4 linked regions of the Homo sapiens genome follow. The protein of the gene in region 2 interacts with the protein of the main gene of each other region in a biochemical or structural test. Each region holds a gene or a part of one and is shown on either strand. Other genes may lie near its edges. The genes, in order: PDK4, PDHA1, PDK1 and PDP1.

Region 1 (7,915 bases), on a different chromosome or scaffold from region 2:
GGAGTAAATTTATAGTAAAAATAGGTCTCCCTGGGGGATCAAAAATGAGTCCTCTACATTTCTTCACACTCAGCATCATTTTCAATGCCATATTTCTTCGCTTCTGAAAAACCAACAAGCCAAAACTTGTCATGTGTAAGAGGGTAGTGATTTATTATTCAGAGCTGAATTCCTTTAATTTAGGTCTAAAAATATCTTAGGAATCTATCTGGAAAGAACCAAAGTTTTAAACACTTATTCTAATGCATAGAGCTTACTCTGATAATGCTTTCTGGTCATCTGGGCTTTTCTCATGGAATTCCACCAAATCCATCAGGCTCTGTATATACCTGTAAAGAAACAGGTATGCTTTAAGTTTTAAAATTAATAGTCAGATACAAATGGCTGAAAATAGAATAGCTTTTTCAAATAATTTGAAAAGAGAAAGTAAGCATTATGTTCAAACTTAAAACTTTCCTCCAGAACATTTGGAAAATAATATAAATTTAAAATGCTATAACTTTTAATCCTTGACTTTCAAACTTAAAATTTAACGCAAAATGTTTCTTTAACTATTTCAGGTCAGTATTCAGTTTCCTGACTGTTTTGTTTGGCAAATATTTTCATTTCTTCTAGCAATAATACTTAGAAACAACTTTTTTTAAAGCTTTTTATTTTTTTTCTACTACATTCATTCATAGAAGAGTGTAAGTCTTGACTGCAATAGTAAATACTACAGATTGAATATATGTTTTAGATTGTAATTGTCTTATAGGTATATAATACATGTATTTCTTGAATCAATGAACAAAAGGCTGTGCAGTCAGTGGATTAAGATAAGGGTCTCATGCATGTCTGCTACCTGTGCATATCCTGCTTCTGTGACCCAAAAATTTGCTGTTTTGGGTTACCTACCTTCTCTAAGCATCAGTATCTTCATTTATAAAATGAGATGACAACAACTGACACTTACTGACTGCTGGCTGTGTGCCAAGTGCTGTCCTAAGTGGTTTTTTTTTTCTTTTTTATGGATTATCTCATTTCATTACACTCAAACATCCCTCTGAGGCATATACTTTAATCTCTTTAATAACAGATGGGAATAATAACTCAATGGCATAAAGAGTTTAAGACACTTGCCAAGGATTCCACAACTAGAAGTGACAGAGGCAGGATTTGAACCCAGAGCCCACTCTGTCAATCACTTTGTAAGTTACAAAGATTAGGCCTTCCCTAAATAGCAGTCATGTGAATTGGTTTCTAGGCATAGGATTTCTTTTGCAATATCAAACTCTTTTATTATTGAAAGTGCTCTTCTATAATTGAAAATTAAAATTGCATGCCAATTTTTTTCAAATTTTTCCTAGAACTCAAAATTTTATTATAAAGTAATCTACTTTTTCAGGGTAAAAATGTCTGTTTATAGTTTTATAACTTCTCTAATGATAACTTACCCTAAATTAATTTTAAAATTCTTACATCTTTCAAAAGTAGTTACCATTCAGATCACCTGTTTTCCAATTATGATGTTAACATAGTATAAGAATTCATACCCGGGTAACTGTTTCAAAACTAGAGACTTCAATATGGTTCACCACTTACCAGCTTTTAACCAATTGCACTGAAGAGGTATTTACTAATTGGGTCGGGAGGATATCAATTTCCTTCAGAATGTTGGCGAGTCTCACAGGCAATTCTTGTCGCAAAAATGCAAAAGAAGTTCTTTCACATGCATTTTCTGAACCTATAATAAATGAAATCAATTTAGTTTTGAGAAAAAGTGTGTCTAAATGATATATCTAAATAGCATTAACTATCAAATATTGAACACACATATATTATAAAATTATATTTCACTCTCAGTTGGGTTACTGTTAATCGATAATTCAGGGGCGATTGTCTCCTTAATTGACTAATTCCCTTCGTCCTTTCGTCTTTCCTTCTTTCTTTTAAAAAGTGACAGATATAGGAGAATTATTGTCTTCTCTTTTTGAAGAGGATTCACTTCCAAGAAGTAAGAATATCCCACAGTTCTTAGAATTTATAAAAGACTGCAGGATTCGGTCACACCACAATGTCAACAACACAACATCCTTTAATGAGTGGGGACATGGAATTGGAGTTGGGGGATAAGAGGCTGGAGGGGGAGCTGTGATATTTCCAGAGTAGTGATATCACATTTAAACCCTTGAAATCTTCCTTATAAGATTACTGCAACAAATGTGTAAATATTTTCAGCAACAATGCAAATATATGGAAAACTATAATGATAAAGAGACAAAGAAATCTGTCAGGAATGCAGAGAGATGTACCCTGTGGAAGGATGCCAGGTGGCTAAGGAATAAAATCTGTTAATTTGAGGCTATTTAATACTATTCAGAAACTTCTCCAAGCAGTACTATGCTGTGAAGGAGAGGATAAAGTTTCCAGTCCATTGTTAAACGGTGACCGAAAGCAAAAAGTATTTTGACTGGAAGAGCGGGTCAGAAAGAAGAGTGTGCAGATGAAGTCAAACCATCCAGCGTCGGCAGGCTTGCAGGTGGCCTTGACCTGGAGGCACCCCTGTCAGAAAGTAACCAAATCTAGGAAAAGGAAAGGTGTGCTGGCGTCGAGGCTCCAGGGCTCAGCAGCAAAGTGAACCCCAGTTGTTTTAGCTTGAGCCTAGCCCTCCCTCTACCAAGGCTGAAAGTTAAGGCAGTTCCCCAACCCTAGGACCCAGCTTGGGCCCTGTGTCCCCTCTCACCAAAGTCCAGTAGCTGCTTCATGGACAGCGGGGACGGGCTGTAGCGCGAGAAATGCTCCACCTCTCGGGGCACCAGGCCGGCGCCGTTGAGCGAGCCAGCGCTGCGCAGCACGAAGCGGGCCGCCTTCATCTTGACGCCCACCCGGCCTGGCGGGGACTGTGGCTGGCTTGAGGGGCGAAGGCTGCTCGGAGCAGAGCCTGGTTCCGAGGGGGCGCGGCGCGTCCGGGCGAGGACTGCAGGTGCGCTGGCTGGCTTGTGCGCCCCGGCCTGGGCTGGGGTTTGAGGGTGCCGCGGAGTGAAGAGTCTGGGCAGAGTCGGAGATGCAGTGGTTCGAGATTCAAGTTCAAGTCTTCCCACCAGCCGCCGCCGCCCGAGGTTTTATTTGTCTCCCCGCACTCTCCCCCCGAGTCCCAAACAGGAGGAGTCACTGGAACTTGGAAACGCGTCCTGAACTCCAGGTCGCGCCAATCAGATCAGAGAAAGAACTATGGGCTCCGCCCCTCCAGCCGCGGTCATCACAGAATGGCCTGGCACGGTGACCACGGAGTGCCCTGGCACCGGTGCCCGCGGCTGTGACGGAAAAAGGGTGGGAAGAACAGGGAAGAGGAAGCAGAAACAGGTATCTGGGGCAACGTGGGCTTAAGATTAGCCTCTTGGGACGGGGCTCCGAGTCGCGTGGGCTGGGGTCCCGCCCAGGCTCGCCCTTGTTTACAACTCGGAGGCTGTCTCAATGTCAAGTACTCCTGGCCACAAACTGTTTCCAAGAGTTTGGACTCCGCGTGCTCATTGGTCCTTGCTCAGAGCAGGGCTTTTACAGTAGCCAACAAGCTGCGTTCAAAAGTATGGGCTTCTCTGCCACTGGACAGAGAGAAAGGAATAAACAACCTAAAGACCTGCGCCCCCACCCCCACCGCCCCCTTTTCTTCAGAAGAGACCGGCACATGGCAGGAACTGTACGTTCCTTTTGCTGAGACTTGAGGGGCTGCCCAGATACATTTACTTTTTCCTGTGGTAATAAAAGGCCATCAATTCGTTCTTCTCCGGCAACACATTCTTTCCGTTAGGTTTAGTTCTGTTAATTAAAAACAAAATTAAAAAGGGATCAATTTGTCAGTTTGCCTTACCTTTTGCGGTGATCAGAGAATTTGTTCACTCTGCCCTGTACGAAATGTCCTTACTCCAAATCTTTACCTAAGACATTCCATTCTACCCTCAAATGTCTGGCACAAGCTGTCTGCTGCAAAAGGTCTTCCTTGATTACTTCTCCTCACTTCTTCCAAATAAGGCCTTGGTCTTTCATGGTACTATTCTATAGCTATTTATGTTTTTATATTATCCCTCTCTGACTCCCCCCTTTCCTGAAAGAGATCAGGGTAGGGACCCTGTCTGATGCAGCTTTGTGATTCCTACTTTTTCACTACTCAATATTTATTAAATTAATGACAGTGGTTGAGACACATTACCCTGTCATACTAACCTCCTTTTCCTCTCCCGACACTCTAAAAGGACTAGGGAATGAAGCCACCGTGTTTGGGAAAGTTGGGAGTAAGAGAGTTGGTTACAAATGTAATAGAATGGGAATTTATGAGGTGTTAAAAATGATAGTTTGTTATAAAAAACCTTTTTGGCCTCCTCCCCCTGCGTTTATTTTATTTTAATTAATTAATTAATTACTTTATTTATTGAGACAGAGTCACACTGTCTCCCAGGCTGGAGTGCAGTGGTGCCATCTCGGCTCACTGCAACCTCGGCCTCCCAGGTTCAAGCGATTCTGCTGCCTCAGTCTTCTGAGTAGCTGGGATCACAGGCACACGCCACCACACTCAGCTAATTTTTTCTATTTTTGGTGAAGATGGGGTTTCTCCATGTTGGCCAGGCTGGTCTCAAACTCCTGACCTCAAGTGATCCACCCACCTCGGTCTCCCATAGTGCTGGGATTACAGGAGTGAGCCATTGCGCCCAGCCTGCCCTGCATTTATAAGCAGAACGGGCAACTCTGAAAGTCATGAGTGATCCTAGGCTCTGCTGTCATCCTTTGCCCTCTTCGTCTAGGAGACTGCATTAAATCACAGGACAGATTTCCAATTCTATCTCTAGCACAAACTTTCTTCCAAGAGCCAGATTCTCCTATTCAATTGCCTATTTGGTTTCTCCATTTGGATGTCTAATAGGTATCAATTTTGCTTCTCTAAAATCAACACCATTATGAGGGATCTGAAACAGTCCTGGCAAACCCTGTGTCAGTTATGTGGCCTGTTTGGAGGCACCATATTAGCTCTCCTACTATTTCTCCCATTGTCTATACATTACCTATAGATGGTCGAGAATTTGAGACTTCCTGTTATGACCAAATATTTTTTTCAGACCTTTGAGAAACAGCTATGTGAAGACATGCAATATTTATGATCTTCCAATGAAGAGGATGGGGCCTGGGTTCTTAGAGAATATTCAAGGATGATCCAAGTATAGACTCTAGCAGTTGCACTTGAGTGGGACAGAAAAACAAAAAAACCAAAAACACAACAGCTCAAGCACTTATCTTAAGCTGAAACAGCTGTGGGAATATGGGCAAGTTCCAAATTGCATCTCCACTTGTAGACAGGTTTTGATGCCACTATTATTTATATTTTTGTACTTGGAATCCTTTATTAAATATTTGCATAGCTTGATGCAGCAACGAAATGTGTTCAAGTAGCCAAAAAACTGAATAAGACTCTCTTTGATGAAGCAAGTAAATTTAAGGTAAAAATCCCTTCTTTTTCTTAGATTGGGTCTTAAGAACATAAGTAAAAGTAAAGCATGCATTTGCTTTTCTCACTGTATATGGAACCTGGAATAAGCAAAAATATATATTACAAAGAATTATACTCTGATTTTCAGAGGAAAGGCAATGGAAATTATGCATTACAGGCAAGTCTAATTTAGGAAAGTCCCATGTCCCTAAGTACATTGATTGCCCAGCCTAGCTTACCCAGCACTACTATTCTATGTGCTGTGGGCTGATTAAAGATCAGGTGAAATCATATGATGTTCACAGAGATGACCTAGGGCTAAATGTGAACTGAGGTTGCCAAAATTTTGTCTCTATGTCATCCCTTCTAATAATATTTATGAAGTTACTCTCACAGTGCATTGCATTCTTCTGTGTCATTTCTGTATGATGGGAACTGTTATTATAATTGGCAGCATTCATGATAGCTGGCCTAGAAAGGTCAGGTCAAGTTGTTTACCCAGTTGGCTAAGATGCTATGTATTACCATGATTAGAGAGTGACCTGGGAAAAGAGTGGCACTTCTCTTCTCAGGTTGAACACAAATCTTGGAGGTGATCCAGTTGGGACAGAGGTGAAGCAAAAATATTATTTGGGGGCAATGGATATGACAAATCCATGCATTCATTTGAGTAAAAGTAAACCATGAGAAGACTATTAAATGACTAATGCTAAGGAATAGAAGAAGTAATCAAAGCTGTTCCCTTGCATACAATGCTGAACATCCCTGCTTGAGATACCTGGTTCCTAAAATTTTCAGTGGCACCTTACCTAGCATTAAATAAGTTCTGTCCAGCTTGCCTGGAAAAAATCTAATAACAAAAGGCCACGGGTAGAACTTTGAGAATGCAAGTCACACTTTTTCCAGAGGGTGGGGGATGGCCAATTTGATAAAATCCATCAGATCCCTTAAAGGGAAGTCTATACAATTTTTCCACCTCAGGATCGTATTCCAAGGAAGCAATTTAAAATGCCCGTAACAGGAACTCTGAAGACATGATGGAAAGATTAACAGACTTGACCATAGAATATTAAAGTTAAAATATGAACAGCAGACTTGGAGAACATATCTACAGAATACGTAATAGACAAATGATGATTTAAGAGATGGCTGTTTCAGTAGGGAACCATTCGGTCATGATCTATTCCCTCATGGAGATGATAGACTTGTGGGGGAAATTGGCATTACAAAAGCATATGGCCAATAAGCCTATACATTAAGATAGGACAAGGGCTAAGAAGAAAATGATTGTGAAGAGTGTAATAGGCTGGAACTACCTTAGATTTGGTGGTCAAGGAAGGTCTTCTTGAGTAAACGACAATTAAAAGAAATGGAATGAGCTTCTATTGGGGATGAGAGGGAATACTGGTGAAAGCATATTGGTGAAGCTACTGGGAAAAGCAGGATCTAACCCACAATTTGGTCTCTGATGTTTCTTATAGTTACTGTTAACCTAGAGGATACTAGGTGCCAGGAGCTGGACTGGGTGCCCTGATGGGTGCAAAAGCGTCTGCTCTCATGCACCTCAGATTATTAGCTGATGATGGAAAACAATAACTAATTATTTTTAATTTATTAGATTTTCATTTAATCCTCAGGGCAAAATGCTATAATTAAATGCATTTAAAAAGCAGCCCATAAGAAAGGTTCACGCCATGGGCAATGCTGGTTGTGGTGGTATTGGTGGTAGTAGTGATGGTGCCAGACAGTGGATATGTTAAGGGTGATCTGGGGTGTTTGGAGGAAGAGCTATGTTGGGGATCAGGAAATGCTACTAGAATTGGCATTTGGGATGGCTGTAGAAAGATGAGCAAGATTTTGGCAAATAATTGGTAGACAGTGGGGAAAAATGTCCAAGACTGAGTAAAAGCACAGATGTAGGAGCTAGAGATACATTGGAGAAATAATGACTAGTTTCACCTGGCTGCTGTCTAGAGTACCCTAAGGGCAGAAGGAAAGGAAGATTCAGTTATCTCATGAAAGCCTGAAATGCTAGTATGAGGTCTATGAGATTTCTAGAGTAAGCAGCAGGGAACTGTTGAAGCCTTTAAATCAGGGAGCAATGTGTTTTCTGTTTAAATTTGTTAGCAGTTAAATAATTCTACTAAACTTTATTGAACACCTACTATGTACTAGGCACTGTGATTAATGCTGAGGACATAAAGATGAAGAAGGCATAGTTTGTCTTCAAAGACGGGAGACAGACATGAAAATAATCTAAAAAATAGAATGTGGCATATATGGTATGTGTACTGGGGGGACAAGCAGCAGCCAGGGGAGGCTTCCTTGGAGGAAGTCATAGGTCATCTGACTTATAAAGGTGGAGCAGACATTCATAGGCAGACAAAGAAGAAAGGCATTGGAGCAGTGAGGAGAGGGAACGAAAAGAGCCATCTGTTGGTAGTATCTCTAGGCTTTGTC
Region 2 (7,509 bases):
TGTATGTGTGTGTGTGTGTGTGTGTGTGTGTATCTTGAGGGGGGGAAATAATCATGAGTTTATACTGATATTTCCAATTCAAATTCAGGACCTCTTGGCTTTGACCTGTTGAATTTTACATTTGTGTCTCTGTTTTTTATACTGAAAATCTTGGTTCCCAATGGCATTAACATAATTATATATTTACTTTATCAGTGTGGGTATGTGCAGTCTTAAATAATAACACCTGACAAATGAGAACAATTTAAGATTTTTTTCTGTAGAGATGGGGTCTCCCTATGTTGCCTAGGCTGGTCTCAAACTCCCGGGTTCAAATGATCCTCCCACCTCAGCCTCCCAAAGTGCTAGGATTACAGGTGTGAGCCTCGCCTTAAGATTTTTTTTTCCAGTTCCTTTTGTCTTTAGGCTATACCCCACCAGGCATATGCAGTCACATTGCTGTGGTGTGAAATAACTTGAAATCATTCTCTGCGGGGTTATGCTGACAACTTGGTATGTTATTAAATTGGTTTGTTATATTTCATTTCCATTGTTATGTCATTGTGTTTTATGGTCGTGTAAAAACATTTATATGGTTCCAAAGTTAAAATGACCCCTAGCCATAATCCTTTCACCAGCTGCTGCTTAGTACCTCAAAGACATTTGCAAAGATTTGTTGACTTTTATGACACATGTATATGATTGTCCTACTCTAATTCATCTGCTGGGGGATGGGTGTTTCTTACTGGAAAACCGGAGACATGTCAAGGAGCATGATTTGCCTTAAAGCTCAGCTTGATCGAATACTTGTAGGGTGATTCGCTAACGAAAGGTAAAAAGGCATATTTCAGGGTCTCTAATCAAAATTGCCCTGCTTCACCCAGATACGTTTTTTTTGTTTTGTTTTTTAGAGAGATGGGGTCTCGCCCTGTCACCCAGGCCGCCATGCAGCGATGCCGCCATAGCTTACTGCAGCCTCAAACTCCTAGGCTCAAGCAATCCTCCCTCGTCAGCATCCCTAGTAGCTGGGACTACAGGCATGCAACACCATACCAGACTAATTATTTTATTTTTTGTACAGACGAGTATCACTTTGTGGCCCAGGCTGGCCTCAAACTCCTGGCCTCAAGTGATCCTCCTGCCTTGGTCTCCCAAAGTGCTGGGATTACAATTTCCCCCAAGATTAACGAGCCCTCCTTTCTTAAGACTTTCTCTTCCCGCCTTTTGCAAATCTTTCTTTCTCTCCGGCCTCCTCTCCTGATACAAGAGTCTTTTGTGAATGTTCTAGCGCGTTACTATAGCCTATAGTTATTATAGCCTATAGTTAATGACTATAACATTACTATAACGTTACTATAGCCTATAGTTAATGACTATTAACCACAATCATCACCTGTCACCACTTGACACAGCATCTCACAGTGTCCCTCACCTTCAAAGTTGCTTCCAACTCTGCTTTCAAATATCTGAAAACAGCTGGGCGCGGTGGCTCACACCTGTAATCCCAGCACTTTGGGAGGCCAAGGTGGGCAGATCACCTGAGGTCAGGAGTTTGAGACCAGCCTGGCCAACATGGTGAAACCCCGTCTCTACTAAAAAAATACAAAATTAGTCGGGCATGGTGGTGCTCGCCCGTTTTCCCAGCTACTCGGGAGGCTGAATGAGGAGTATCACTTGAACCTGGGAGTCAGATGTTGCAGTGAGCCAAGATGTCACCACTGTACTCCATCCTGGGCAACAGAGTGAGAATCTGTCTCAAAAAAAAAAAAAAAAAAAAGAGGCCGGGCGCAGTGTCTCATGCCTATAATCCCAGCACTTTGGGAGGCTGAGACGGGCGGATCACGAGGTCAGGAGATCAAGACCATACTGTCTAACATGGTGAAACCCTGTCTCTACGAAAAATACAAAAAAAATTAACCGGGCGTGGTGGCGGGCACCTGTAGTCCCAGCTACTCGGGAGGCTGAGGCAGGAGAATGGCGTGAACCTGGGAGGCGGAGCTTGCAGTGAGTTGAAATTGCACCACTACACTCCAGCCTGGGCGACAGAGCGAGACTCTGTCTCAAAAAAATAAATAAATAAAATATATATATATACACGTATGTGTGTATATATATGTATATATATGAAGAACAAGAAGTGCAGAGAAAATATCCTAGTCATTGAAAAATTGGTTACTTTGTTTCTGCACTGCAAAGTTACTTTAAACTTTGTAATGAATCTAGTGGAGAGATCATTTGAGATGAGGCAAATGTCCTGTTTCTCATCATACATTTACCCACTAATTTTAGCCTGTATTGATGATAATTCTCACCTGCAACAGTTACTGTGGTCTTTGCCAAATGGTGATTTTCTTTTTCTATTTTCATCATTCCTTCTATATTAATTAATTGGAATTCTACTGTAAGGAAAAGTTGTTCCTTCTAACCCATTGATTTGTTCAATCATGTATTTAAGTAGGACCTATATTTTACTTGTTCCTTGCTATATCTTCAGTGTGTAGTACAGTGTCTGACACAAAATCGGTGCTCAATAATAGGTGTTGGATGAATGAGCAAATGAATGAATGAATTCATATTCATATGGCCTACAGAGTTCCCGTACATGCACAACCAATATCACCACCCCGTGGAGATGACTCCCAAATTAATATTTTTAGCAAATGTTCCAGACTTACAACTCCAACTTCCCGGGGGACATCTTCAGATAGCTGTGCCACTGCCACCACCAGGTCAACATGTCCCAAACCATTCAGACCAGCTTTTTCTCCTGAGCTGGACATCTGGCCTCCAACCTTTTCATTCTCTTTTACCTTTCATATTCTATCAGCAGCAGCAGCTGCTGAAATCATACCATGCAAGTTTCTCACGTCCATCTCTGCCTTTTAATGGCGCCCTCTCACTCCTTTAAGAAGTTTTCTTCCACTGCAACACGATCTCTCAGTCCAGAGTCTGGCCCAGTGCCCAAATTATTTCTCTAGCTATGCTGAGAGCTGGTCATGCTTTGAACTTCTGCTTTGAATACTTTCAGTGACACTGGGAGAGAATTATCTCATTGGACCATTGTCATTGTTAGAAAATTCATTGTTATGCTGAAATGAAATGATTTTATTCACACACACACACACACACACACAAAATAGCTCTTCCTCCTGGAACATGACTGGCCTGAAAATGTGTGAAGACATATCCAATCCTCTCTGGTTTTACTGTTCATCCAATTTTCTGTTCTCCTCCTGGCAGGAGGATTATATTTCACCTTGTGGAACTCAGACATGGTCGGGTAACTAGCTCTGGTCCGTGAAAATTGAGAGGAAGTGACATGTGTCACTTCTGGGCAGAAGCTTTGAGAGCCGGTTTAAATGATCCCTTTTCTCTTCATCCATGAGACAAGCTAAGTTCCAGAGAGAGGGTGCCACGCTGTGAGGGACCTGTGTTACGAGTACGATGGCTCGCGTCACTTCAAATTCTTGAAATCACTGAAATTTGGAGGTCAGTTGTTACATCATAACCCAGCCAATTCTAGTTAGCCTGTTTTCTTCCTAACTTCTTTAATCGTTCTTCATAAGTCACAATCGCAGCCCCTCACCGTTCTGACCACTGTCCCCTGGATTCCACTCAGTTTACTCATTATCCCCCTTAAAATGTGGAGCCCAAATCTGAACCCGGAACCCCAGGTGCAATCCCACTAGGACACAACACAATGGGTTCCTGAGCCCTTTGATCCTCTGAATAGAGCCCCTTGTTGCTTTGGTGTTTTGTCTCTGTGTGTGCTTTTATCATCGGCTGAGCCACGCTGTTAACTCGCAGTGAGCCTGTGAACCAATAACTAGAGAAAAAAGATTTTTCCCATTGTCCTCTCGACATATATTGGGAAACAAATTTTTTGATCCGCGTTCAAGTAGACAGGGCAGAACTGTCCAACTGCTACGTGATCTTTTAAAGACAAAGTTAGTGGCAGACCATTTACAGAAACCAGATGTTCTGTCTTTTGGCTCTGAGCATGCTGCTAATCTTCATCATCTAGTGTACTGAACGAGATGTACTGAACGAGGGCTGCAGAGCTGCAGCACCGGCAGGAGTAGGCGCTCGGTAGGACGGGGCCTGCACAACCTCCCCGGTAGTCAGCAGAGCGGAATCTAGGAAGGCTCCTTTCCCGCGGCGCCCTGGAGGCGGGGGCCCCACCTTCCCACGCAGGCGCTATCAAGCCCCGCCTCCTCACCCGCCCGCGGCGTGGCGTCGGAAAGAGCCCTCAGCCCCTCCCTCTCTGGCGCTGATACCCAATGGGCAGCCTCAGGCCTTTAGCGGGGGCGGGGCACCCCCTGGACGCCGTTCTGGTTGGCCCGCGGCCCGGCGCAGCGCATGACGTTATTACGACTCTGTCACGCCGCGGTGCGACTGAGGCGTGGCGTCTGCTGGGGCACCTGAAGGAGACTTGGGGGCACCCGCGTCGTGCCTCCTGGGTTGTGAGGAGTCGCCGCTGCCGCCACTGCCTGTGCTTCATGAGGAAGATGCTCGCCGCCGTCTCCCGCGTGCTGTCTGGCGCTTCTCAGAAGCCGGTGAGACCTCCCGGGCGGGCCGGGATGGGGCGCGAGTGGGGCTGAGGCGGGGCCGGAGGGCAGGGCGGGCCAGGCCGGGCCACCCAGAGCGGGGTGGAAGGCGCCAGGGGAGCCGGGGAGCCTTTACTTCGCCTCCGCGCCCTGCATTCCGTTCCTGGCCTCGGGAGAAGCGGCACGGACCGGGATCACGCCAAGGTCCGTGTGAACTTCCCCCTTCTCGACACCCACCTCCCGCCCCCGGGCCCAGCTGTGCGCCAGGCGAAGTCGGTGTGCTCAAGAGGTGCCTGTTGGGTTACAGGACACGGAAAGGGTGGCCTCGGCCTCCTTCGAGTCTCCAATTGACCCCACTCATTTCGGATCTTCTAACTTAATTTCTCTTGACCGAGAGGCTTTGTAATAGCGTAGAATCTGGAGACAGGGTGGCTTCGTTCAAACAGCACCCTCACCATTGACTAGCCCTGTGACCTTGAGCAAGTTTTTAAACGTCCCGGGGACCCGGTTTCCTAAAATGTTTGCTCGAAGTGGAGTTAATCTCTAAATGGAGATAAGAGTTATCTCTGAAATGTTATCAGTTAACTCTAAAATGGAGATAATAAGAGTCCCCACCTCTTGGGGTTGTCTTGAGGATTCAACGAGTGACACGTGTGGAAACGATTCCAAATAGCACCTGGCACATAATCGATAACATGTGTGTTGAATAGTGTTATTTATTGAGTCTCCAGTTCGGTATACATTTCTTGAACACCTGTGCTCAGTTCTGAGGCGGGTTCACAGAAGGTCAGCCTCTTCAGAAACAAACTTCCTCCTCTTCCCTCTCCCTCAACATCTGAGCTTTTCTTGGCAGTGAGTTCAGGAGCGCCGAAGCAGAACTCAGAGGACGCTGCCCTCCCCTCCCCTTACCTACACATTCTTAGGGTACAAGTAGCTAAAGCAAAGAGCAACGATGCTTGAGGGGTGGGGGGTAGAGTTTAGCACTATTTCATGGCCTCAGCATTTAGAGGTGCCTAACACCTGAGCTAGCATTCTGACCCCCCTAGGCACAGTGAGGTCGTGTTAATTGGTGTAACTGCAGGCCTCGGGATTCTGGTATTTCCCCCAGGACTTGATACCGCTCTACTTAGTACAGGCAGAGATTGTCAAAAGGTAAGAGGTATGCCCCTCTAGGAATCCTGTTGCCTAAAATAATGACAAAACTGCCGGGTGCGGTGGCTCAGGCCTGTAATCCCAGCATTTTGGGAGGCTGAGGCAGGTGGATCACCTGAGGTCAGAAGTTCGAGATCAGCCTGGCCAACATGGTGAAACCCCGTCTCTACTAAAAATACAAAATTAGCCGGTCGTGGTGGCGGGCTCCTGTAATCCCAGCTACTCGGGAGGCTGAGGCGGGAGAATAGCCTGAACCCGGGAGGCGGAGTTTGCAGTGAGCGGAGATCGTGCCATTGCACTACGGCCTGGGCGACAAGAGCAAGACTCCGTATTTTAAAAAAAAAAAAAAAAAAAAAAAAAAAAAAGCGTTCCCTTTAGGGATATCTGTGGGTAGAGGGCTGTACCGGTAGTTACGGGCTCAGAAACATCCTTCCTTTAGGCACCTGATGTAGGTTTTCTTCTTCTTCTGCAAGTCAGGTTCATTGTTTCCTGTATCAGTTTGCAGGGTCCCCCCCCCCCCGCCACCTTACAGTAGGAAGAAAATTGAGTTCCAGATATGAAGTCACCTTTGAAAGTGCCCAGGTATCTTTCCACTTGGTGGTGTAAACTCTTCAGATAATTAGAAGTTTTCTGTGTCACTCAACTTGTCATGGACTAATTAGGAACCATTCCTGAAGCTTTTAAGGATAGAACTAAAAGTTTCACTTTTATTTTTTTAAAGGGTGGAATAATAAACTAACGTGTTGACTCTTTGTATTTTGTAATTCTTCATACTTATGGATGTCTTTTTACTTAACTATAAGTAACAAAATAGATCAACGTTTTAGTTTTTTATATTATACATGTAAAAAGACATTTTGCATATAAGCCTTTCACAAAAATCTTGACAGTAAACAATAAGCAGTGGCTCACCCAAATTAGGCAGACTTACTGCACTAGACTCCTACCATCTGTGTGATACTCCATGAAGGGAGGGAGAAGGGGAGGGAGAAGGGTAGGCAGCTGGTCTGATGGCTGTGACACAAGATAATCCCCTTAACCTCCCAAGACGCTGTGTGTTTTTTCCTTTTTTATTCTCCCTGGTTTACTTTCGTTTTGTTTGAGACAGGGTCTCTGTGTCACCCAGGCTGGAGTGCAGTAGCAGGACAGCTCACTGCAGCCTTAGCCTGCTGGGCTCAAGCGATCCTCCTGCCTTAGCCTCCTGAGTAGCTGGGAACACAGGCATGTGCCACCACCACACCCAGCCAATTAAAAAAATTTTTTTTTTACTAGAGACATGGTCTTGCTACGTTGCCCAGTCTGGTCTCCATCTCCAGGCTCAAGCAGTCCTCCCACCTCGGCCTCCCAAAGTGCTGGGATTACTCTCACTCTCTTAAAACCAGGCAGGTAGGGAGATTTATCTCAGGCTTAAAGATTGCCATTGTCTCATCAAAGAGTGTTTGGTGTGAAACTTTGAAATGAATATCAAGATTGTGTTTTTATTTTTGAATAAGGTTTATAGTTTTCATAGTTCTTATTTCATGGAAGAAGATTGAATGCATTTAAAATGTTATTTTATTGTTTGCATTTCTGTATGGCTCCTTTTGTGAGATCTTTACTAGCAATGTTTTGGCTTTATAAGTGGTAGGTAAGAGTTTTAATTTACACTGTTAGAATCTGGAATTTTTGAAACGTTTTTCCTCTTTCACATGAATGGTTCCTATGTATTTAGGAAGTTAAAGTTTTACTTTTTTTTAATTAATTTTTTTTTTTAGGCTGGAATGCAGTGGCACAGTCATAGCTCACTGTAGCCTCAGGTGTGTGCCACCATACCTGACTAATTTTTTAATAT
Region 3 (7,186 bases), on a different chromosome or scaffold from region 2:
TCAAACAATGGATAAGAGTGTTTCCTAACCAACTCTTAAGTTTTGTTACATAGATAGCAATTATTTTCTCCAGCCTGTTATTTTTCTTTTTTACATTGTTGGTGTCTTTTTAGCATATAGACTTTTACATTTTTTTTGTAGTTATATTTGTCATTCATTGTTTATGGCTATTCAGCTTTGTCATGTCACACTTAGACTTTCCCTGGGCCAGGCACAGTGGCTCATGCCTATAATCCCAGCACTTTGGAAGGCTGAAGCGGGTGGATCACCTGAGGTCAGGAGTTCGAGACCAGCCTGGCCAACATGGTGAAACCCCCTCTGTACTGAAAATACAAAAATTAGCTGGGCGTGGTGACCCATGCCTACGTAGTCCCAGCTACTTGGGAGGCTGAGGCAGGAGAATCGCTTGAACCAGGGAGGTGGAGGCTGCAGTGAGCCGAGATAGCGCCACTGCACTCCAGCCTGGTTGATCGAGACTCCGTCTCAAAGGAAAAAAAAAAAGGAAAGGCTTTCCCTGGTTGGGGGCAGTGGTTCATGCCTGTAATCCTAGCACCAAGGCAGGAGGATGGCTTGAGCCTGGGAGTTGGAGACAAACCTGAGCAATATAGGGAGACCATGTCTCTACCAAAAAAAAAAAAAAAAAAAGCAGACTTTCACCAAACTATCAAAGTATATTTTCTTCTGTAGAGAGTTCAAGACTTTGATTTGTCAATACCATTGCCATCTTAATGCGTGAAAGAGAAGTATATTTATTAAATCCTTTTTTGTTTTGTTTTGATTCACACTAGATGGCTATGAAAATGCTAGGCGTCTGTGTGATTTGTATTATATTAACTCTCCCGAACTAGAACTTGAAGAACTAAATGGTAAGCCTGATGTTGTCTTTTTCTCAATAATTAGTGCTTTGATTACTTGATAAGGGATAAGAATTTAAATGTTTTAATGGAAGATGACTTTTTATCAACTTCGTTGGATATGAAGGCTAAAGGATAGTAATCATGTAAAAAATATATCTATAAACATATGTAATTTAGTCAGATTCTTTATGAAAAGATTTGGCTTTTTGTATCACATTTTCTTTATTTTTAATTGATAACTTTGATTCTTTGCTTATTTTTTATTTTCTGTTTAGTCATAGAAAGAAAATGATACCAAGAAAGTTACATTTGACTTTTACATGCACTTCACTAATGTAAGACTTACCCTTTTTCTACTTCCTGAGTTGTAAATAATTTTCTGTTGTTGAGGACATAGACTGGGGTTATAAAAGAGGAAAGAAAGATGCTCATCTATTTGAGAATCTGTTTGTCTCTGATGGTTTTCTTTTTACCCTGATTAGTGCCTTTTGGACAAAAAGGGTTTAGATGCCTTGAAGAGGGATTGATGAGTCTCTTTTTCCTGAAAGCATGGTAGTTTGACAGAAAAAAGCATTTCCTAAGATGACACTTTAAGAAGGTGTGGGAAGAATAAAACAAAATAGGCTTTTACTAAGCTGTATTCTGGACCTTAGAGTGAGAGAGCAGTGAAGTTATGCAATTGAAAATAGCATTGCTTGGTGATTTTCTAAAGCCATATTAACTCTTTTGAGCCATGATGGTAGCATAGCATTTGGTAAATAACAATCACAGTGTACAAGTAAGTGATAGTTTGCAAACCTGAACTGCTGTGAGCAATTTCCAGATGTCCCATTTTTGTTCCCAAGGGGGAGTTTATTCAGAGGAAGGTCTGATTTATTGGTTGAATTAGAATTCTAAGATATCATGAGTCTTAATCATTTGTTCTACTAAATGTCTGTTTTATACACACCCCTATCACCACCCCCAGTGGGGCTCCTATTAAGTGTTTAAATGTAGAATTAATTACTGTCTCGAGAAATTGATGCTAGCTCATATTTTTTATTCAGCTTTATATCCATCGAAATGCCTGAAATAAAACAATATTCCACCCAGGTGAAACATTTTGAAAATGGCTTAAAGAATGTATGGGCTGGGCGCAGTGGCTCACATCTATAATCCCAGCACTTTGGGAGGCCGAGGCGGGTGGCTCACAAGGTCAGGAGTTCGAGACAAGCCTGGCCAATATGGTGAAACCCGTCTCTACTAAAAGAAAAATCAGCCAGGCGTGGTGGTTGGCGCCTGTAATCCCAGCTACTCGGGAGGCTGAGGCAGGAGAATTGCTTGAACCTGGGAAGTGGAGGTTGCAGTGAGCCAAGATCGCGCCACTGCACTCCAGTCTGGGCAACAGAGCAAGACTCCGTCTCAAAAAAAAAAAAAAAAAAAAAAAGAAGAAGAAGAATGTATGCATGCATGTGAATTGGACTGTGGAATTTAAAGATTTTAACACTTCTCTATTTGGAAAGTAAAATTCCTACCCGAAAGTTAAGCGATCTTAAAAAAGACTTTACCATCCTAGAGAAAAATGGGCGCATGGGTTGGTTCGATTGTGATGCAAGATTGTGAGAAGTGACCACAGGACTCTTGTCATCATCAGTTGTAAATATTTGTGGGTATGGGTTCAAACACTAATACATTGAAGAAATGGTGTGGCAGTTCTCCCCCAGGTAATACTGTCCTCCGTAGTTAATGTTTTCTTTTCATCACTACACAGTTTATTCTTAAAAATGCTTTAAGCACATCTCTCTGTACTTTCATATTTTTCTCTTCTGCTCTGTAGCAAAATCACCAGGACAGCCAATACAAGTGGTTTATGTACCATCCCATCTCTATCACATGGTGTTTGAACTTTTCAAGGTTTGTAAAATAGTATTACATAACCTTTACCAGTACTTTTCTGAGGTTAGGAATCTGCTCTGAAAGCCAAATATTCCACTAGGTTCTCCTATTAAGAAGTGCCATTTCACATCAGTATCATATCACATTGCTGGAGATCAGCTTTTTATCAACACAGGGAGACATCTCCATGTAGTGGTGAGCTCAGACTATGGAGTCAGAAAGACCTGGGTTTGAATCCCAATTATGGCTCTTAATATGTGTGTGACCTTGGGCAAGTCACTCAACCTCTCTGAGCCTCAGTTTCCTTTTCTGTAAAACAAGAATACTGTCCAGGATTGTTTATGACTATTGGGAATAACATACTAAGTGTCCAGTACAGTGGCAACGTATTACATATAGGTGCTCAATAGAGTTATCTTTATGTTTTTATAAAACAATATTTAGAAGAGTGATTCTCAACTTGCTACCCTCAAAGGACCAGAATTCTTTTTTTGGTCTGGCTTTTCTTGGGAGGGGGAGGTCATTTATATTGACTTACAGGGTTTCTGCTGTAATCTTTGCTCTTTACAACAAAATTTGAAAACAAATTATGCTACTAATATTGAGAGTATCTTTTTTCCCCGCCAATAATACTTGCTGGTTGACAAGAAAATGGGTGAGGAGTGAGGGGCACAGGTCCTGGTGGGTGAAAATGATTGCCCTCTATCAGAAGCTTGTAGTCTCTCTTCAGTTGTGTTTCATCAGCCAGCAGCAAACTAGAGGAAAGAGGGGGTGGCTTTCAATCTGATAATGTAAAGGAAAAGTGCACTGAAACACAGAAAAACTGACCGAATATCTTAGAACAGCAGCAGAATGTTCTTTCTTCCAAGACAGCAAAAATGTATTTAATACCTTACAAAATCTTTTTTAAAATATTTATTTTATTTTTTGTAGAGTTGAGGTCTCACTCTGTTACCCAGGCTGTCCTTGAACTCCTGGCCTCAAGCAGTCCTGCCCCAGAGTGTTGGGATTACAGGCATAAACCACTGCACCTAGCCCTAAAATCTTTTTATCCAAGTAGTTAAACAAGTAGTGATGGGCACTTCAAGCATTAACACGAATTTTTTCCTTGAAATTCCAGTGGCATAAAGATCTTGTGCCCTATGATTGAGGCACTCCGTATTATATTGTACATAATGTCAGTAATAATGGCTTTCACCTGGAACCTAATCTTAACCTGCCTTTGGTGGAAATGATGGAATCTCCTCCATAAGAGGACTCAATCGCAATTGCTGTGCCAGGGCCACACACTCTTACTTCCAAATTCGGATGCCTTTTTAGTTACATCTAGTTTATATCATTTTCTACTGCAATGCTGAATGTCATGATATTGTTTAAGGCTTCTGATATGTTGGCACTGTGTACCCTATTTCCTTTAGAAATTAGTCAAAGCAGCTTTACAATGACAATACCCTTAATTTCAAACTAGAGATAAAGGGATTCATTGCTCCATCAAATACGACCATCGCTGTTACTACTATATGAAAAAAATTGCTTTCCTTTAAAGAAATTTATGACAGTTTTTTAAATAGTTCTAAAAATATAGCTGAAACTACATTTTCAAAAATGTTTTGCCCATCATTTACTAAAATTATAAAAGTGTTTGAACAGAGTTTTCTGCTTTAATGTAACTAGTTAAAAGTGTTTTGAAGTCTGACTTTGGAAAATAAGCAAAATTTAGTTGGAGTCTTTAGGTCAGAATATCCTTCAAATCCCCCCCAAATTGACTCCATTAAAAAAAAAACTTTAAATGTGGTTATAAGAATTGTGATTCTTTGGCATATTTCCATCAAATTTTAAAACTTCAAATAGTGCATATGTACTTGAAAATTACACTTTCTCTTTTCTAAAAAGCTGTATTTTTAATACAACCCTAATGTATTTCAGAATGCAATGAGAGCCACTATGGAACACCATGCCAACAGAGGTGTTTACCCCCCTATTCAAGTTCATGTCACGCTGGGTAATGAGGATTTGACTGTGAAGGTAAATGTGTTTAATGGTTTGTTTTCTTTTTTTTTTTTTTGTAATTGATGAACAGACATGCAAAGGTAACCATACGCATAATTTCTAAAAGACATAATCTACTCTCAGGGGAAAAGAATCTTGTCTGTAATAGATAATAAGCACATTGCTTCATTGAGCTGGTGGATTATAGTTATCCCTTGAGTCTTTTCTATGCAGGTCCCCCGTCGAGGTGATTCAAGTTAAAATAAATCTTGGAGACAGACAATTTATCATTAATATCTCTTTGATAAGTAAGATCTAAAATATTTGGGTAGTTGCAGTATTATGGAGATAGTATTTTATATATAATTTAAAAAATTTTAAAACAGTGCTTTCTAATCTACTGGTTTCATTTGATTCTCATGACGTAGGTAATTTTATCCTCACTTTTACAGGTGTGGAGACTAAGACACAGTGATTAGCTCAGGATCACACAGGGCAGAAATGCTATGGGACATGATATCCAGTCTTCTGTCCCCAGTGCTAGGCCTTTTCTATTACATTGTTCAGGTGGCCCAGTTTCTTCTTTTACATTTTATTAAAAATTGTTTTCTGTCACCCAGGCTGGAGTGCAGTGGTGTGATCATCACTCACTGTGACCTTGAACTCCTGGGCTCAAGCAATCCTCCTCCCATGGCTTCCAGAGTAACTGGGACTGCAGGCTGCAGGCATGCAAGCCTGGCTAATTAAAAGAATTTTTTGGTGGGTAGAGACTAGGTCTCACTTTGTTGCCCAGGCTGATCTCAAAACACCTGGCCTCAAGTGATCCTCCCACCTTGGCCTCCCAAAGCACTAGTATTACAGGTGTGAGCCACTGTGCATGGCTCCAGTTTAAGAGTATGATAGTGTTTTTCTTTTTTAATAATCATTTAAAAATTTATATTAAAGTAATAAATGCAGAGACTATAAAAATTCAAATGTGTCAGTTCCTGGCCCTTTGTAGGCCTCATTACTCAGAGATTCTTAGTCTTTCTTTACTTTTTTTTTTTTTTTTTTTTTTTTTTGAGATGGAGTCTTGCTCTGTTGCCCCAGGGTGGAATGCGGTAGTGTGATCTCGCCCACTGCAACCTCTGCCTCCTGAGTTCAAGTGATTCACCTGCCTCAGCCTCCCGAGTAGCTGGGATAACAGGCACCCGCCACCACGCCTAGCTAATTTTTTGTATTTTAGTAGAGACAGGGTTTCACCATATTGGCCAGGCTGGTCTCGAACTCGACCTCGTGTTATCCGCCTGCCTCGGCCTCCCGAAGTGCTGGGATTACAGGCATGAGCTACTGCACCTGGCCTAATGTTTACATTTTAAACAGTAAATATTACCTTTCTGTTATAGTAGTTGAGGAGTTAGCTCTCTTTAATAGAGCACCTGCTCCCCTCCCCTCCCCTAGCCCAAGGGCCAGTTTCCCTATACTATTATCCCAATATTTAAGTTTGTATATGAAATTCGAAGCTGAGAATAATCATCCTGCAAAATTTTGAAGGCATCCATTGTTCCTTTTTTAAAAAAGGTACAATTCAGTGGAATTCATAAGGTTATTCAAGTATTGCCGCTGTCTCATTTTAGAACATTTTCATCAGTCCTAAGAAAAAACCCAAGTACTCCGTCAGGCACAGCAGCTCATGCCTGTAATCCCAGCACTTTGGGAGGCCAAGTTGGGCAGATTGCCTGAGGTAAGGCGTTTAAGACCAGCCTGGCCAACATGGTGAAACCCCATCTCTACAAAAAATACAAAAAATTAGCTGGGTGTGGTGGCAGGCGCCTGTAATCCCAGCTATTCAGGAGGCTGAGGCACGAGAATCGCTTGAACCCAGCAGCAGAGGGTGCGGTGAGCCAAGATTGCACCACTGCACTCCAGCCTGGGTGACAGATTGAGACTCCATCTGAAAAAAAGAAAAAAAGGAAAATACGCAGTACCTATGAAGTCACTTCCCGTTTTTCTCTCTTCTAGCCCTTGGCAACCACTGATCTATTTTCTGTTTGTGTATTTCTCTTTCTGGGCATTTTATATAAATTTAATCATGCAGTATGTGGTCTTTTGTTACTGACTTCTTTCACTTAGTATAATGTTATAGTATGCATTTGTACTTCATTCCTTTTTATGACCAAATGATATTCTGTTATATGGATATAACACCTTTGGGTTATCCATTCATCAGTTGATAGACATTTGGTTTGTTTCTATTTTTTGGTTATTATAAATAATATGGCTATGAATGTTTGTGTACAAATTATTGTGTGAACATGTGTTTCAGTTATCTTATGTATATACCTAGGAATTGAATTGCTGAATCATAGGAAACTCTGTTTAACTTGAGAAACTGCCAAACTGTTTTCCAAAGGACCTGCACCATTTTGCATTGTCATCAACAATGTGTGAAGGTTCCTGTTTTACCTCGTCCTTGTCAACAATTG
Region 4 (7,598 bases), on a different chromosome or scaffold from region 2:
AATCCGTAACTAAAAAAGCATTCTGAAATGCACTAATGAAAAACAGAAATTCCAGAAAAACGGGAATCCATCAGGAGTAACCATTTAAATAAAAGAAATTCAAACTGAATACCTGAAAGTCATCCAGAGGTTAAGTGTACATGACTGAGCCAGAAGATGTGCTCAAATGTTGGGCCACATGACAGTGGCTTCCATACTTAAACCATATCTCTTTTTAGGTTTGCGTGCAGAAAGCATATCAACTCATTTTGTGCTTTGAATAAAGGTTTTCTATCATTAAAAATGTAAACTAATGTAATCTTAATGAATTTTTCTTCATAATTTTATGACTGCATTTGCTCTTTCTTTAAAACTTAAGAATCTTACAGAAAAAAACAATGAAAATGTGCCTGTATGGAACGTAAACTGACTCAAAATACTATTTGTGTGGGGGGGAGGGAGGGTTGATAGATGCATAACAGGGTTTGATTGTTTAATTAAGGAATAACAAGTCCTGGAAACCTGCACTTTCCTTAAATTCCTTTGCTTCGACATTTTTTTGCCGGGGGGGGGGAGGGAGGGCAGCGGGGGGAGGAATTTTGCTCTTGTTGCCCAGGCTGAAGTGCAATGGCGTGATCTCAGCTCATCGCAACCTCCGCCTCCCTGGTTCAAGCGATTCTCCTGCCCGGCTAATTCTGTATTTTCAGTAGAGATGGGGTTTCACCATGTTGGTCAGGTTGGTCTCGAACTCCTGACCTCAGGCCATCCACCCGCCTCAGCCTCCCAAAGTGCTGGGATTACAGGCATGAGCCACTGCACCCGGCTTGGTATGACATCTTTTCTACTTTTGTAATTGACTGCAAAATGAATGAAATCTAGTGACAAAAAGCAATGATTGACACAGCAGGTGCTTTTAACAATACTTACGTTCAAACATCAAATTCTCCACTACATTTTTCCTTCAAGGCAAAAATTCTTGAGATTAAAAACAAAAAATGAGAGAGTGAATTTTATTGACTCTATCTTTCAGTTATGCAGAGGCTTAGTACATGGACTGAGATTATATCCTAATGCCCCAACTTCCAACATGCCTTCAAAAGACAAAATTCCTAGGGAAGTTGGAATTTATGAAAACTGTGCTGTAATTAATGAGCGTTCTATCCGCATCGGTACAAGTGATACATTCTCTCCATCAGATCAGATACCCTTGGGAGTCAAAGTACTTTCAAATGCTTTCATAAATAAGTAAGCAATGAAAAACTCTTAATATCCTTCAGATTATCCACTGATTCAACAACAAGAAAACACTCTACATCATAACTTTTGCTGACAAGCTTGTTAAATTAGTGTAGAAGGCTCTTGATCAGGCAATAAGAACAGCATCCAGGTACAACTGTTGGTAAAACAGAGCAGTGTCAAATTTGCAAGTTATTCTTGATCACAATTTTCACGGAAAATTTCCTATTCCATGATCTAGACTCAGCCACGTTGTATGTAGCATCTTCATCCCAGGCAGATTGGGCTGATTTTGCCAATGACTAATAAAGAAAGATGCACTGCAACCAGAAACAGGAAAGAGAGCCGTCCATTCTTACTGATGTGCTTAGCAGAGCCTGTGCCAAGACATTTTTTCCACTCCATCAATAGACCCACGGACCAAATTAATTAGCAAATGCTATTAAGGCACCGACTCCAGAGCCCTTTAGCTTTGCAAAGCTTCTGATGTAAATGAAAAAGAAAAGCTATGCTAATCATTTAATGTGTCGGAACCCCAGTTTATGTAATCCGATTGCATTAAACACTCTACATAAAGACCATCCGCGATTTTTCAACATTTTTCTGGAAATGCCTAGCCATTTCACAGCTCCTGCTATCTTTTTACATAAATGAAGAAAGATACGAAGCACCACACGCCAGTATTTTTTTGATTAGTTTCCTTTGTCGCTACCTGAAAAACTGCACTCACAAAGACATCAAAGCTATCTCAATCCAAGACGCGTTTGTCCCTTTTTCCAATCTATCTCATCCCTTAATACCACGCTGATTCATCTAAAACCATCCATACACAAAAATCTGTCACCATCCTTCCTGGGTACCCAACGCAGGTAGTTAAGTGAATACCTACCAATTCGTCTGGGCCCGGGACACACACACATTCTCCTGTCATCACAACACGGAGCCGACAACATCCACAACCCGCGCGGGCAGCAGCAGCGACAGCAGCACCGGCCCATTGAAAGCAAGGCAGAGATGCTCATTAGAGGAGGCGGCGGCGGGGAGGCGGGAGCGGAGGAGGGGCGAGGTCTCGCTCCAGCCCGGTGAATGGGCTGGGAGGTGGGGGGGAAGAGGATGGAGGAGGGATAAAGGGGTGGAGAGAACAAGGAAGCCAACCAAACCAACCCACCCCGCCGGGGAGGCAAAGCCACAGCCCAAGGCAGCGGGGCCCAGGCGCGAGCAGGGGTGCGCCCCGAGGGCCAGCCCCTCCATCCAGCCGGGGCGCGAAGCCCATGGACTGCAGCCCCGCCCGCTGCCCGCCCCGCCCTGCCCGGCCCGGCCCCGCCCCAGGGGTGCCCGTTTCAGTCCAGACGAACAGGGGCCGGCCGGTGTCAGGCTGCCAGCGGGGCCAGCCCTGACCCGGGGTGCGTCAGGGAGACCCTCAGGCAGTGCCGCAGCCCTACAGCCTCCCTGGAGCTCACTCTGCCGCCGGCCCCGCGGCGCCCTTCGTGCTGACAGCTGGAGCGCAGGGGCCGGAAGACGCTAGGGCTGCACGGCGCCCCCGCCCCCGCCCCCAGCCCCCCGACGGCCCCCAGCGCCGCCACGCCCGCCCCACAGCCCGGACGCCCGGCGCGCACCTGGCGCTCCAGGGCTCGTCCAGCCCTCCGCACGCCCGCGGCCGCCGATCCGCGAGCACGCCCGGCGCCCCCTCACAACTTTGGACGGGTGGAGGATCCCGGACGGGGCGGCTCGTGGCAGGGAGTAGGGAATACGAACCGGGCACGGCAGGAGACCAAACGATTCTTCCCGACGAGGAGGGGGCGACAACGACGCCACCGCTCGGCGCTCTTTCCACGCAGCCCCGTGCAGCTCCCGGAGCGCGAGCCCTCACCCCCGGCCTGCCCACTCTGCTCCCCTACCGTGCGGGGCCGCCACCCTGCCCCGCCCGCACGTTCGGGCCGGAGTGCTTCCCGCCTGCCGATTGGCTGCGCAGTGACGAGTGGGAGGGGAGGCGGAGAGGGCTGCGGCCGGGGGTGGGGCGGGGGCGGAAGAGGAGCGCGCTCCCCGCCAGCTTTGTGACGTCACGGGGGTCAGACAATCCCTTCCATTCGGCGCGAGCCGCCCATTGGTTCCCCGGGCCCGCCTCACGTGACCCCCCCCCCCCCGCCCCCAGCGAGTGGAAGGTGTGGCTGCGCGGCGCTAGGGAGCGGTGGTCTGTGGAGCTCGGCGGTGTTGGCTGAGCAGGCTGCGGGGTCGGGAGAGGGGAGGCGCCTGGGCCGGCTCCAATGTCTTCGCGTGCATGGGGCCCGAGGAACGGGCTGCTCCCCTGTCGTGCAGGCTTCCTAGAATCTCTGGCACCTCTGCGGGGATGCGGTGGTGTGGGTGGCCGGCCCAGCGGCCAAGCCTCCCCTGCGCCTCGCGGTTGGGTGCGGGCTTCCCAGGGTAGGCTGCGGGAGCGGCTCCCAGCCTCACGGGAACCTCAACTCCCTGCGGCTCACCCCAGCCTGCGGTACAAGGCGTAGCAAAGAACCTCGAGAGTAGCTGTTGCTTCGTTCGTTTGATACGTTGCAGATTTTAGGAGCATTAACGCCCATCATGTTTTCTATCGCCCCAGGGAGAGGAAGCAGGTGTAGACAGCAGCAAGAGGGAGTTGTGATGAGGGAATTATCTCTGTAGCGTAGATGTGTGCTCACGTTCTCTGAGGAGTTTTGAAATCAGTATTGTTTCCGTTGCCCTGAATGGTTACAAGGAGAGAACACTGGACTTGGAGTCAGAAAACTTTCATCCAAGTCATTCCCTGCTCTAAGTCCCATTTCTGTTCCATGAGATTGTTTCCACCTCAGATGAGATTAGACTTAAGGTGGCATTGGTATTGTCTGTGGTAAAACAAGATATCTTCGAGGGCTCTTCAGTGACTTACATCCATACATCCCTTTTATGGGATAGTGGCTTCTGAAAGCTTCCTTGGCAGTGGCAGATAGAGCATTGCACTTATCTTCCCTAGTGTTCACCAATAAGTTGACTTTGATTTATTACACATAACTTCTTACTAGCCAGTCAGGTTCACAAAATGATGTGGAGTGAATTTCTTTTTATGTAATAAAAAACGTTATATACCCAAACTGGTCCTTTATAACTCCTGGATCTTTCAAGTTGCTGTATTCTCTGTTCTCTAAATAAACTAGAGGAGACTGTTTTTGCCCATCCCCAGGTTACCCATGGAACTTTTGTGGCTAGTCTGTCTGGCCTTCATCCCAGTTTTTACAGGTCCATCTGCCTCCCTTCATCCTCTCCTTTTTGCTTCTCAAATGGGCTTCCCATAAATTGCAAATATTCTCCACTACTCTTCCTGTCATTTAATTTAAGTATCTGGTTTCTTCTTCATAGATGCATAGGATGGTGTAGCCTAGTGATTAAGAGTGCAGCTGGAGCCAAGCTGGCTGGGTTCCATTCCCAGCTCTGCAGCTTTCTGTGTGGTCATGGGCAACTCTGCATGCCTCATTCTCTCACATATAAGATAAAAATGTAAAAAGTAATAGCAGGGCTGTATTAAGAGAGTTGACATATATAGCTTGCTAAGAAAGTACATAGCATGTAGTGTTATATAAGTGTTAGCTATTCTTGATATTATCGACATGTCCAGGTCAGTGTTTTAGATTAAGAACTCCTAGCAAGTAGGAGACCCAGGCCCCCAAGTGCATTATATTCTATTGTTAGGTACTAATAAGTTATTAATAGAATGGAGAATCTTTGAACCTTAGAATATCAGTTTAAATTCATTTATATAGAGGATCTCTGCCTCTTAACCCTTACTTTGTGGACATAGAGACCCACTTAACTGAAGCTGTGAGTGGAATTTTAAGAGTTTCTGCTTTATGACCCAGAAATGAAGTACATACTAGACTTCTCTGTTGTCTTATCAACTTTTTCCTGGCCAGGCTTGGTGGGCTCCTGCCTGTAATCCCAGCACTTTGGGAGGCCGGGGCGGAAGAATTGCTTGAGCCCAGAGACCAGCCTGAGCAACATAGACCTCATCTCTACAAAGAATCTAAAAAGCAATTAGCTGGGTGTGGTGGCGCCTGCCTATAGTCTCTGCTACTCAGGAGGCTTGCCTGATCCCAGGAAGCTGAGGCTGCTGTAAGCAGTGATGCATCACTGCACTCCAGCCTAGGCGAGTAAGCAAGTTCCCGTCTCAAAAAAAACAAAAAGCTTTTTTTTTTAATGGTTGTGAAATAGAGTAGTAAGAATCCAACATCCAGGCCAGGTGCGGTGGCTCACACCTGTAATCCCAGCACTTTGGGAGGCCAAGACAGGTGGATTGCTTGAGGACAGGAGTTTGAGACCAGCCTGGCCAACATGGTGAAACCCTATCTCTACTAAAAATACAAAAAATTAGCCGGGTGTGGTGGTAGGCATCTGTAATCCCAGCTACTTGGGAGGCTGAGGCAGGAGAATTGCTTGAATCTGGGAGGTGGAGGTTGCAGTGAGCTGAGATTGCAGCACTGCACTCCAGCCTGGGCAACAGAGTGAGACTCCATCTCCAAAAAAAAAACAGAGTCCAACATCCATATCAAATGACCTCTTCAAAGCTGTTACCTTAGTAGCAACCCTTATTCCACACTGACATTGCCATTATTCAGAGCACTTTTAAAACTCCCTTTTCAAATTGTTTTCAGATCTGCACAGGAAACTCCAACTTGTTTTACTATAACCAACACTTTGGTTTTATACCAGAATAGTATTGATTCCCATCTTATTCTTCTTAGTTCTGAATGACCTGGATATTTCTAAAAATAACACCCACTCTCAAAAAAACTGGTATTTGCCACCACTAAATATAGTCAAAAGAATTTTGACATAAGTATTGAATGCCAAGGTGTTTTTGAAATCAGAATAAAGCCTTCCTAAAGTGATAGCTTTGAAATAATCTCATTTACAGGTATAAGTTTTGTCCTCTGGTTGTAAAGTTGTATGGTTCAGTGAGAGGTATATTATAAATAAACTACCCTTCTGCAGAGGTACCAACTGCTGGTACAACTGGAGGAGATTCTTTAGTATCTCAACCTTGATTCTCCTCTGGCCTGGCTTTGTTCCTGTTTCTAGATGGAGCTCCATTTAGCCACCCACTGGGCTTGCTTCAAAAGTGCTGTTTGTTATCACATGGCCAACTGGCCAGGGCCAGAACAGGTCCTTGGGTTTACTGCGTTGACCCCAGACTGTTTTAGCCACCAGAGCACTTGTTGATACTTCAACATTGGAAAGTGTTGGAAAGCAGCACTGAAACAACCCAGGAACGTTGTCGAGAAGGTAGGGAAGGAGAGAGGAAGGGGCTTCAAAAATAGTATGGTACTAAGAAAGCAATGTGCAAAATCACCTGTTTACACAAATGCTTTCTGTGATAAACAAAAATGCAATGACATTTCCTGAATATGAACCTTAACATTTAGTCATCCATTTGCCCTAGGATGGATTTGAAAATGAGCAATGCTTGATCAGATTGGCCTGATGTTCTTGGGGGCAGGTGATAAGACCCTTAGGGGTATTGGAGGTTAGCTTTGACAACATGGAGATGATCCAGCAGTCTCAGTGGTGCCAGCCAAGAAGCTTAAAATAAACCTGCATGTGGGTCTGAGATGCCCTCACCCTGATGGTTACTGATTTACTGTGGCCTTTGCCAAAATCAGCAGTCACAGGGGAAAGAGGCTGGTTTACCATACTCCTCTAGCACCTGTTTCCCTACAGGTCTTGGCTAGGAAATCAGCAAGAAATTGCCAAGTAACTAAAGAATGGCTACCTGTTTTATTACCATGTCAGTGTCGGGAGTTCCTTCTTTGAAATTAAGTTGTTTGGAGTTAGCAGTGAGATTGACGAATCATCTATACAAAAGAAACAACACGTACTGTGGTTCATCTCCTTTGGACCAGAGACTGTTCTAGATGCTTTCACATTTGTCTGATTTTATATTTGGAAAGGAATCCATTCTCATCAGAATTCATGAGACAATAGAATGTTCAAGGGGGGAAAAGCTTTATTCTCTTACAAAATGAGAGACCAAAGGCTCTTGGCTGGCAGGCAGTAAGTTTCTGTGTACTAATTGAACATGACAGAGAATACAAAAAGTAGGTGTCTGGGGTTGCGTAATGATAGAATTCAAGTGCTTTACCAAGAGTATTGCATACCTGTGGACCTGAGATTGGCACATACTTCAAAAATTCCTGTTAGTTAGGCTATCTTCAAATACTAAAGGTGACATGTATGGGCAAGAGGGGAGAGATGAAAGGGGAGGTAGGTGTTGGTGTTAGTATCTGGCCATCAGGCAATTTGGCAAGATTAATTTTTTATTCAGTATAATTCTGTAGGTGGATTCCCCAAAGCACAGAGGGTATGAGGTGGAGGACAGGCTT

Evidence for each region.
Region 1: of the proteins of PDHA1 (region 2) and PDK4, one has a biochemical effect on the other in vitro, tested with the Homo sapiens proteins (one study listed by IntAct).
Region 3: the proteins of PDHA1 (region 2) and PDK1 form a complex in vitro, tested with the Homo sapiens proteins (2 studies listed by BioGRID, with this or other methods).
Region 4: the proteins of PDHA1 (region 2) and PDP1 form a complex in vitro, tested with the Homo sapiens proteins (one study listed by BioGRID).

Annotation. Positions count from the first base shown.
Region 1 is NC_000007.14:95,593,442-95,601,356, forward strand, and holds the start of PDK4 (pyruvate dehydrogenase kinase, isozyme 4), read right to left. Parts: upstream 3,076-7,915; 5' UTR 2,853-3,075; coding exon 2,723-2,852; intron 1,724-2,722; coding exon 1,582-1,723; intron 330-1,581; coding exon 258-329; intron 1-257. UniProt on the Homo sapiens protein: Kinase that plays a key role in regulation of glucose and fatty acid metabolism and homeostasis via phosphorylation of the pyruvate dehydrogenase subunits PDHA1 and PDHA2.
Region 2 is NC_000023.11:19,339,560-19,347,068, forward strand, and holds the start of PDHA1 (pyruvate dehydrogenase E1 component subunit alpha, somatic form, mitochondrial isoform 1 precursor), read left to right. Parts: upstream 1-4,367; 5' UTR 4,368-4,478; coding exon 4,479-4,535; intron 4,536-6,950; coding exon of another isoform or gene 6,951-7,064; intron 7,065-7,509. UniProt on the Homo sapiens protein: The pyruvate dehydrogenase complex catalyzes the overall conversion of pyruvate to acetyl-CoA and CO(2), and thereby links the glycolytic pathway to the tricarboxylic cycle.
Region 3 is NC_000002.12:172,566,068-172,573,253, forward strand, and holds part of PDK1 ([Pyruvate dehydrogenase (acetyl-transferring)] kinase isozyme 1, mitochondrial isoform 2 precursor), read left to right. Parts: intron 1-788; coding exon 789-866; intron 867-1,132; coding exon of another isoform or gene 1,133-1,149; exon of another isoform or gene 1,150-1,955; intron 1,956-2,673; coding exon 2,674-2,750; intron 2,751-4,658; coding exon 4,659-4,757; intron 4,758-7,186. UniProt on the Homo sapiens protein: Kinase that plays a key role in regulation of glucose and fatty acid metabolism and homeostasis via phosphorylation of the pyruvate dehydrogenase subunits PDHA1 and PDHA2.
Region 4 is NC_000008.11:93,912,452-93,920,049, reverse strand, and holds the start of PDP1 (pyruvate dehyrogenase phosphatase catalytic subunit 1), read right to left. Parts: upstream 3,128-7,598; 5' UTR 2,971-3,127; exon of another isoform or gene 2,832-2,970; intron 2,715-2,831; exon of another isoform or gene 2,467-2,714; coding exon of another isoform or gene 2,384-2,466; intron 2,140-2,383; coding exon of another isoform or gene 2,105-2,139; intron 955-2,104; exon of another isoform or gene 917-954; coding exon of another isoform or gene 907-916; intron 1-906. UniProt on the Homo sapiens protein: Mitochondrial enzyme that catalyzes the dephosphorylation and concomitant reactivation of the alpha subunit of the E1 component of the pyruvate dehydrogenase complex (PDC), thereby stimulating the conversion of pyruvate into acetyl-CoA.